2 separate regions of the Homo sapiens genome follow, and region 2 is linked to region 1. The links come from fine-mapping of genetic effects on gene expression. A gene starts in region 1. The other region holds a variant in brackets. All regions are shown on one strand. Distances are between the middles of the regions. Region 1 holds the start of EBP (EBP cholestenol delta-isomerase). Region 2 has its middle 6.3 kb from the start of GLOD5.

Region 1 (5,000 bases):
GCCTGGGCAACAGAGCAAGACCTTGTCTCAAAAATAAGTTATCTACCAGTTTTAGAGAAGGGCAAAAAACAAAAAGAATAATAATAACAATACATAATAATTTTTTTTTTGAGACAAAGTCTCACTCTGTTGCCCAGGCTGGAGTGCAATGGCATGGTCTTGGCTCACTGCAACCTCCGCCTCCCAGGTTCAAGCAATTCTCCTGCCTCAGCCTCCCTAGTAGCTGGGATTACAGGCGTGTGCCACCACACCCGGCTAATTTTTGTATTTTTAGTAGAGATGGGGTTTCATCATCTTGGCCTGGCTGGTCTTCAACTCCCGACCTCGTGATCTGCCTGCCTCGGCCTCCCAAAGTGCTGGGATTACAGGCTTGAGCCACCGCGCCTGGCTAATTTTTGTATTTTTAGTAGAGATGGGGTTTTGCCATGTTGACCAGGCTGGTCTCAAATTCCTGACCTCAAGTGATCCACCTGCCTCGGCCTCCCAAAGTGCTGGGATTACAAGCGTGAGCCACTGTGCCCGGCCTATAATAAATTTTTTAAAAGATTAAATAAAAATTTAAAATAAATCAATGGAAGAAGAATAGGTGGATAGGTAAACATGCAAGCCGATCCCTGCCCAGCAAATCCCATCCCACAGCATATGAAAGAAATCAGGACTCACAGAGTTGAGATAAGAAGGCTTGGTCTCCAAGCAGGTCTTCGTAGTAGAGAACGAACCAGCCCTCGATCACCAGGTGAATGAACCCACACACTGCAAACCAGCACAGGGACAGTCGCCGCCAAGTCCCCAATGGGACAACCGCAGCACGACCTGACAACAGCCATGTGGTCACGACTAAGACCCCTGTGACAGAGAAGAGGCCAGCCAGTATATGCCAGGTGGGGCGGTCATTAGGTACAAAGTTGTCCAGTCTTAGGTGCTGAGGCCAGTATGGGTGCAAGGGGCCCGCGTTGGTAGTCATGTCTTTGTGGGCTGATGGCTGCGTGTGTATAGGCAGGAAGTTAAAAAAAAAAAAAAAAAAGGAACAGAAAAACCTGGACAAATAGAAAGTACAGAATGAGATAATAAAATCAAATTCAAATAGTTTATTATCATGAGAAATGTAAATGGACCGAATTTACCAGTTAACAGACAGGATTGTAACACTTCTAATTACATTCCGTTTTTTTTTTTTTTTTTCAGACGGAGTCTTGCTCTGTCACCCAGGCTGGAGTGGAGTGGTGCGACCTCGGCTCACTGCAACCTCTGCCTTCCGGGTTCAAACGATTCTCCTGCCTCAGCCTCCCGAGTAGCTGGGACTACAGGTGCCTGCCACCACGCCCAGCTAATTTTTTGTATTTTTAGTAGAGACGGGGTTTCACCGTGTTAGCCAGGATGGTCTTGATCTCCTGACCTCACGATCCGCCCGCCTCAGCCTCCCAAAGTGCTGGGATTACAGGCGTGAGCCACTGCGCCCGGCCTACATTCTGTTTTAAGACCATGACTAAAGGCCAGGCACCGTGGCAGGTAATTCCAGTGCTTTGGGAGGCTGATGCAGGAGCAGCACCTGAGGCCAGGAATTCAAGTCCGGCCTGGGCAACACAGCGAAACTGTCTCTAAAAAAATAAGAAAATCAGTCAGGTGTGGTGACAAAGGCCTGTAGTCCCAGCTAGTAGGTAGGCTGAGGCAGGAGGATCGCTTTGAGCCCAGGACTTCAAGGCTGAAGTGAGCAGTGACCACATCACTGCCCTCCAGTCTGAGACTCTGCCTCTAAAAAAGAAGGCCGGGCGCGGTGGCTCACGCCTGTAATCCCAGCACTTTGGGAGGCCAAGACGAGTGGACCACTTGAGCTCAGGAGTTCAAGACCAGCCCGGCCAACATGGCAAAACCCCGTCTCTACTAAAAATACAAAAATTAGCCAGGTGTGGTGGCGTGCGCCTGTAGTTACAGCTACTCAGGAGGCTGAGGCAGGAGAATCGCTTGAACCTGGGAGGCAGAGGCTGCAGTGAGCCGGGGTCATGCCACTGCACTCCAGCCTGGGCAACAGAGCGAGACTCTGTCTCAAAATAAAATAAAAAAGAAAAGAAAAAGAACATGACTGAAACACAAGGCCACAGAAAGGCTGAAAGCTTGTTCCAGCCCTTTAGAAGCCATATTATGATGTGGTAGAAACAGTCCCGGTCTCAGCCCTCGGGGGTCAAAGTCTGGTGGGAGGCACATGGGAACAACACCTGATCCCAGCCCTCCCTGGTCACAGTCTGGCGAGGGAGATACAGGACCAGGCCTGGTGTCTTCCTTCAAGGGTCACAAACTGCTCACGACCACCAAACCCAGTCCTGTGCTCCGGGGTCACGGTTTGGTAAGAGACACAGGAACCAGGCGTGGTCCAGTTGCACAGGTCAGCGTCTTAAACCGTTCAACAAAAAGCTATTCCCTCCCCCACGTAGTCCTGAAAACTGCAACTGGGGGACAGAGGAAAGAAAACGAATCAGAACTACAACCCTCGGTGCCAGCGTTTGGAAAGCCAGAGCCTCCCCGCGAGAGCGTGCAACGCCGTCAACCTGCAGGGAAGAGACGGATATTGAAAGGCCGGTGTCTGGCGTGCAGCGCTAGAACGGAACACAAAGCCGGTCAATCCGAACCAGAACCCTCCAGTCCCGCTGCCCAATGAGAAGACGGATCTTCTGTCCTCTGGACAACCGTGCGGTAGCTGGGGGTCTCGCGCAGGCGCAAAAGGGCGGTGGGGGGGGCGGGTGGCAAAGGGTCTCGCGCTGGCACGCCGAGGGCTGGCCGCGTAGCCGGGGAGAGCTGGGGGAGGGAGCAGGGGCCGGGTGGAGGGCACTCACCAAGGCGCGCGACGGCAGCGGCCTCCCACGCTGGCTCCGGGCTCTCTTTAGGCTGGGTCTCGCGCTCTGTCACATCCCTAGTTCGGGCTCATCCCCTAGTGGGTTCTCTTGCCTTACGGAGCGAGCCAATGGTGAAGCGAAGAAGGCGGCCCGTGCCGCTCCCAACCAATAGACACTCTCTTTGTACCTCTAGCCCCGCCCCCGCGCGTGGCGCCATTTTCACCTGAGTTAGGTTTGGGGTGGAGACTGGGACGCGCCAAGGTTAGTGGGCGTTTTGGATCCGTAGCCAATCTGCATCGAGTCCTGGCTTCAATTTCCCCATTCCCTTATCAGTCGATCAAAACGGGGACTCATTAAGGTCTGTACCCGCTTCTTCCGCTGGTGAAATTAGCGTTGCGTTGCATCCTTTCACCTCCGCCCTTTTCTAGGTAGAGTAACCCTTAGTATAATGCAACGAAACTGTTACAAGCAGATCACACGCTATACACTGCAACCACCCCCTCCCCAGCTCTTCAGTGCTCAGAACTCCTCAGTCCTAATAGCAGCGGTCATTCTCTCTTCTCCCGACCTCAAGTCAGAAGAACTAGTTAGAACCCAGGCCTCTCAGTCCTACTGACCAATTGGCATGAAGACCCTCAATCTCCATATGCCAGTTCTAAAAAGCCAATCAAACGCCTAACCACCAGTGGGCCCCCAGATGGAGCAATCAATCAGAATCCAGACCCATCCCAGACCTCCCATCCAATTAGAACCCACAACCCTCAGTCCTAAGGATAAATAGGCACCAACCCTTCATCTCTCTTGCTTTCTCTCCTCTGTGTCCCACTCAGAGCAACCAATCAGAATGGGGATCCTTCAGTTTTCCAGCCAATCAGGCCTCCCCCACATCCAACTATGCAATCTGTCCCTGCCCTGATCAAACCAAGCAGGACCAGGATCCTGCCATCTTCAGGCTCATCATCTAATCAATCATAAACTAACCATGAACCAATCACAGTCTGCTCTCTCTTCATGGTTTCCAGCTTCCAAACCTTTATCCATGCTGTGCTCCCTTCCTCACTCATTCCTATTCCCCTCTGAGCAGTGAAGAAGAAGCCTATTGAATATTTCCTACTTTTATTTGACAATAACAAATTGTATATAAAAAGGAAGAAGGAAGGCGGGGAGGCCCTGGATCTCCCCTTCTCTGTTTCCCCAAGCATCCCCCTCTAGGCCCCAGCAGGCACCACCCCCTTCCTGCCTTGTGGTGGGGTGGGGATTGACAGGCATGAAAATGGTGTGATTTTGTGTGTGTGTGTGTGTGTGTGTGTTGAGGTGTTGGGGGTCAAGGATGGAGGGGGTCAAGGAGTAGAGAGAGGGCCTTCCCTCATCCCCCATCAGTGGCACCCTGAGAGGGGTCTTAAGAGGGTTATGAGGGTCCACAGATGTGCCTCAGCCTATGAGACGGTAGAAGATCCAGCATCCAAAAGTGACCCAGTGACTGGCCCAGCTGAGCTCTGACCACTTGTGGACAGTGTATGCCATGCCGTAGCCCTGTGGGAGAGAAAGAGGTGATGGTCCCACTTAGCAAGGACAAAGAAGTTCTTAGGAAAACCCATCCTTTGCCCAAGGACATTTCTGTGACTGCTCTAGGCGAGGCCCCGCAGAAGGGCCTAGGTACATATGAAAGGTGACCAGATATAGTTTTTGTCTTCTTCTTTAAAAATCATTTTAAAAACAAAGTGATCCCATTCTCTGACCTGTTATCTCCCTAATATATAAAGAGCTCCTAAAAATTAATTTTTTGGAAAGAAAAATTGCCAGAGAAGGTGAATAGGTCATTCCAGTAAAGGAAAAACAAATGGCTCTTAAACATATGAAAAGATGCTCAGCCTCATTAATAATCTTCCTCATTTTATTTATTTTCTTTTTGAGACAGGCTCTCATTCTGTCACCCAGGCTTGAGTGCAGTGGCACGATCTGAGCTCACTGCAACCTCTACCTCCCAGGTTCAAGAGATTCTCCTGCCTCAGCCTCCTGAGTAGCTGGGATTACAGATGCTGCACCACCATGCCCAGCTAATTTTTGTACTTTTAGTAGAGATGGGGTTTCACCATGTTGGTCAGGCTGGTCTCGAACTCCTGACCTCAAGTGATCTGCCTGCCTGGGCGTCCCAAAGTGCTGGGATTACAG
Region 2 (5,524 bases), 230 kb before region 1:
GTTTCTACTAAGACCCAGTAGCAGACCAAGAGCTGTTTCTCTCTCTCTCTCTTTTTTTTTTTTTTTTTTGAGACAGGGTCTCACTTTGTCACCCAGGCTGCACTGCAGTGGCACAATTACAGCTCACTACAGCCTCGACCTCCTGGGCTCAAGCGATCTTCCCACCTCAGCTTCCTGAGTAGGTGGGACTACAGGCATGCACCACCCCACCCAGCTATTAATAATTTTTGTATTTTTTTGTAGAGATGGATTTTTGCCATGTTGCCCAGGGTGGTCTCGAACTCCTGTGCTCAAGAGAGAGATGTGTTGGCCTCAACCTCCCAAAGTGCTGGGATTAAAGGAGTGATCCACCACACCCAGCCAAGAGCTGTTTCTCAAAAGGAGGGTAGTTATCTGCAGAGAATAGCAGGGCTTTGCTCCAAAATCCTAAAGGAGGCTCACCAAATTTCATTTGGGGGGCTGAGACGTGTGGATTGCCTGAGCCCAAGAGTTCGAGACCAGCCTCGGGAACATTGGGAAACCCTATCTCTACAAAAAATACAAAAGTTAGCCAGATGTGGTGGTGCACACCTGCAGTCAGTCCCAGCTACTAGGGAGGCTGAAGTGGGAGGATCACCTGAGCCTGAAAGGTCAAGGCTGCAGTGAGCTGTGTTGTGCCACTGCACTCCAGCCTGGGTGACAGAGCAAGACCCTGTCTCAAAAAATAAAATAAAACAAAATCCTAGAGGGCTAGGCTATGACTAACTTATAGCGGCCTGCCAAGAGCTCCAAACAGTATCCCTATCTGCCACTGTCACTTCAAGCACCACTGGATCTCCTGGGTCCTATGGCCCAAGTGGCAAAGTAGCTTGCACAGCAGCCTGGACATGTTGCAGAGCCTTCTCCTGTTCTGGGCCCCACACAAAACTTGCAGCTTTTCAGGTCATTTGGTAAACGGGCATGTGTAACATACCCAAATGAGGAATGTGTTGCTTCCAAAATCCAAATAGGTGTGCCAGGCATTGTGCCTCTTTTTTGATTGTAGGAGGGGCCAGATGCAACTACTTATCCTTCATCTTAGAAGGAATATATTGGCTGGGTGCAGTGGCTCACGCCTGTAATCCCAGCACTTTGGGAGGCTGAGGCGGACGGATCATGAGGTCAGGAGTTTGAGACCAACCTGACCAACGTGGTGAAACCCCATCTCTACTAAAAATACAAAAATTAGCTGGGCATGGTGGCGTGTGCCTGTAATCCCAGCTACTCAGGAGGCTGAGGCAGGAGAATCGCTTGAACAGGGAGGTGGAGTTTGCAGTGAGCCGAGATTGCATCATTGCACTCCAGCCTGGGTGACAGAGCGAGACTCCATCTCAAAAAAAAAAAAAAAAAAAAAAAGAATATGTTGACAGACCTCACACCACTGGACTCCTAGAAATTTCACTGAGGTAGAAGATCCCTGAATTTTTGTTGAATTTATTTCCTACCCTCTGACACAGAAATTTCTCACCAATAAGTCTAGAGTAGTTGCTACTTCTTGCTCACTATGTCTACTCAGCATAATATCATCAATGTCATGGGCCACTGTGATACCTGTGGAAGGGAAAGGCAATCAAAGTCCTTGTGGACTAAATTGTGACATAGGGCTGGAGAGTTGATTGATATACCACTGAGGCAGGATGGTGACAGAGTACAGCTGGCCTTGCCAGTTCAAAGTGCTTCTGGTAGCCTTATGGACAGGGATGGAGAAAAAAGGCCTTTGCCAGATCAAATAACTGCACACCAGGTACCAAGGGATGTGTTAATTTGCTCAAGCAATGCAACCACCTCTGGTACAGCCGCTGCAGTTGGAATTACCACCTAGTTAAGCTTACGTTAAGCTTAAGTCATCACCTGGCTAATCCACTGTCATTCTGCAAGATCCATCTGTCTTCTGCATAGGCCAAATAGGAGAGTTGAATGGGGATGTGGTAGGAATCACCATCCCTGCTTCCTTGAAGTCCTCTGCAATCCCTCCAGAAATGCAGCAGGTCCCCTTCATTCTGTATCATGTCCAGCAAGTGCTCTGTGGAGCGACATGAACCTCCATCATTCATTTCACTCTGCAACAGTCATTCTTTATAAATGGACATTTACAAGGTTTTTCTGATCTGCTCCCACCAGCCTTGTGCACACAGCTTTGTGCACATGTGTGAGTGTTAGAGTTAGAAGTGGAATTGCTCAGGTCAGGCGCAGTGGCTCATGCCTGTGATTCCAGCACTTTGGGAGGCTGAGGCAGGCGTATCACCTGAGGTCAAGAGTTCAAGACCAGCCTGGCCAACATGGTGAAACCTCGTCTCTACTGAAAATACAAAAATAAGCCGGGTGTGGTGGCAGGCACCTGTAATCCCAGCTACTCAGGAGGCTGAGGCAAGAGAATTGCTTGAACCTAGGAGGTGGTGGTTGCAGCGAGCTGAGATCGCACCATTGTACTCCAGCCTGGACAACAGGGCAAAAACTAAAAAAAACTAAAAAAAACTAAAAAAAAAAAAAAGAAGTGGAATTGCTGGATCAAGTTTCATTCATTCAACAAACACCTAATGTGTGTGTACTGTGTGCCCAGCACTGTTCTAAGTGCTGGCCAGACAACAGAAAATAAGGCAGACAAATGTCCCTGCCCACATGGAGCTGGGGGTAGTGGGGAGAGTGTCCAATATTGATTTCTGTAGATGCTTCACAAGGTCCTAGAAGGTTTTACTCTCATCAGGAATGCATTTCCTGATTTCCTCCCCACTACTCTCTATGGGGTGGGGCCTGCAGCAGGGGGTTGGCTTCCTTGATCTTTGCTCCCTACAAGCTGTGCAGGGTCTGATGCTGGGATGGTCTATTTGGGGATGTGCATGCACATATATGTGTATGCAGGTGGGCACCTGTGTGTGTACATGTGGTTGGGAAGTGGGGGATGGAAATTGAATGGTCCACTGGAGAGACAGAGGGGCAATAGGAATAGAAGAGACCACTTAATGGTGTTGGAGGGAGCTTGGGACAAAATGATCCATTGAATTGAGGCATGAACAGCCCCTCACAGGTCGCACCACAGAGGGTGTGCAGGAGTGGCGGTGGTGAGGAACTTAGTACTGTCTTGGAACCTGCTGTTGTGCAATTGTTGTGTGTATACTCCTGGGATCGATCACACGACTGTTGTGTAGACAACCTTGCAGTCATAAAGACAGGGGTGTGGATAATCCTGGAGTCACAGAGTGGGGTGTGAGCACTCCTGGGGTCACACAGA[TAGAA/A]GTGTGAATGCCACCTGAGGCAGCACACACTGGCATGTGGACAGCTGTGGGTTACTCAGATGGGGTTCCAGACATTCCAGGAGTCTCACACACACTGCAGAGCGGACACTCCAGGAATCACACACACTGGAGAATGCACACTTTCGGGGTCACACAGAGGGGGATGCAGGCACTTCTGGGGTCAGATTGACTAGGGTGTCAACACTCTTGTTGTCAAACAAACTGAGGGGTGGGCAGTCTTGGGGTCCCAATGATTGGAGTGTGGACATTCCCAGGGTCACATAGATTTGTATGTGGACATTTCCCACGTAGACCGGGAAGCAGACACTCCTGAGTCATCCAGACTGGCTAGTGGACATTCTTAGGGTCACATACACGAGGATGTGGACATCCTAAAGGTCAGATAGTCTGGGGTGTGCACGTCCCTGGGTTCACACAGATTGGAATGTAGAGCCTCTTGGGGCCTCTCGGACTGGAATGTGGCCACTCCTGGGCTCATACAGCCTGAGGTGTGGGCAATTGTGAGGTCACCTAGAGTGCTGGCCGGTCACAAAGATGGGGGTTTCGACATCGCTAGAGTCACTCAGACTGGACTGTGGACAGACTTGGGGTCATATAGACAGAGGTGTGAACACTCCAAGGGCCACCCATACTGGAGAGTGGACACTTCCAGGGTCACACAGGGGGTTTGGGACACTCCTAATATTAAACACACTGGGCGGCAGGCACCCCTGAAATCACACATTGTGGACCAGGTACTCCTAGTGTTACACAGACTGGGGTGTGGACACTCCTGGGGCCACAGTGACTAAGGGGGGGACAGTCCTGTGGTCACGTAGGCTGTGTTAGGAACATTCCTGCAATCTCAGTTTTAGGGAAGTGGATATTCCTGTGGTCCAAAAAAAAATGATGAATTGGCACCCCTGGGGTCACAGACTGAGTTGTGGATGCTGCCGTGGTCACCCAGGATAGTCATGGACACTCCTCGGTATGCAGATTTGGGAGTAGATACTGCTGAGGTCACAGCAGCTGCAGTGTGGGGCGGCCCTCGGGTTACACAGACTGGAATGTGAATTATCCTGGGCTCACACAGATCAGGTGTGAACATCGCTGGGGTCTTGTAAATGGAGTAACACACCCTGGGCAGTGTGCTTCCTGGGATCACATAGGAAGGGCAGCAGACTGTCATGGGGTACTACACATGGGGGGTCAGCACTCCCGTGGGTCACTCACATGGGGGTTTGAACACTCACACACACTGAGTTGTAGACCTTCCTGGGGTCACACAGACTGGCTGTATACTGCTGGTGTCACACAACTTTGGAGGTAGGCACTCCTGGGGCCACACATACTGGCATGTGGACACAACTGTAGTCACACAGATAGGGGTTTGGACACTCCTAGAGTCACACACCCTGCGGTGGGGACACCTCTGTCATCACAAGAGTGTGAACACTCATGTCATACAGACTGGTAAGTGGACACTCCTGGGGTCAGACAGACTATGGGGTGGACAGCTGTGCTGTCACACAGAATGAGGAGAGGGTGCCCCTGGGGTCACACACATTGGGGAAGGAATGATGCTGGAGGTGCACATTCAGGAGTCACTGACGAAAGGGGGGAAAGTTTGAATATCACCTAAGCAGTGCACATGACACATGGGTTCTAGAATGTGGGCTTCACTTTTCATCAATGTGGAAGACCCACAGCCTGCCTCTTTTCATGGACATTGAGGATACCGGAGGAAGAGAAACATCTGGAATCTATTGCTGGGAAGGTCTGCAGTGCCTGGGACCTTGGGCTTTTCACTGCTCTTCAGAACTGATTGTACTCAGTTGCTTTTTTTTTTTTTTTAATCTGTTAAATGGGGATCACTGGCTTCCTGCTTCCCTCACCAGGACATTTTGAGGATGAGGTGAAGTTCTCAGGTTAAAACTGCTTTATAAAGTAAAGCACCCTCTGGATGAGGAGGCCTGAGACTCTTCCTAAAATTCAAAGCAGTGAGCTGGCTGATCAAGGTGGCATCAGGCCAGGAGCTGGAAGAGGGGACACCTAGTTTGTGATCATGATAACGAATCTAGCTAAGTGACCTGGAGTGAGTCCGTTGCCTGCATTGACCGTCAGATTCCTGATCAGTAATACGGGGATGATACCCATCTGACAGGGTGTCACAGTGATGTTTAGCTGCTCCCAAAAGTCACGCACGTTGAGCTGTTGCAAAATAGCTGTCCAGCCAGAAGTTCCACTTCCCACTGTCCCTTGCCCCTGGGTGG

What was found. PIP is the estimated chance that this variant, and not a neighbour inherited with it, causes the effect. A credible set is the group of variants that fine-mapping cannot tell apart.
Region 2: its variant is the best candidate, but not a certain one, in a credible set for the expression of EBP in cerebellar hemisphere (GTEx, PIP 0.83).

What each region holds. Positions count from the first base shown.
Region 1 is chrX:48,519,736-48,524,735 of GRCh38, reverse strand. EBP (EBP cholestenol delta-isomerase) reads right to left here and starts at 2,928. Exons shown (of 5, transcript NM_006579.3): 1 at 2,829-2,928; 2 at 664-1,037. The coding sequence starts at 964. It overlaps PORCN (porcupine O-acyltransferase), which reads right to left. Exons shown (of 15, transcript NM_203475.3): 15 at 3,928-4,361. The coding sequence ends at 4,260. RefSeq lists silencers at 2,644-2,823, 2,884-3,113, 4,028-4,087.
Region 2 is chrX:48,752,659-48,758,182 of GRCh38, reverse strand. No RefSeq gene overlaps it. Among named protein-coding and RNA genes, the nearest start is that of GLOD5, 6.3 kb to the left of the region's middle. The variant TAGAA/A (reference allele first, on the strand shown) is at 3,248.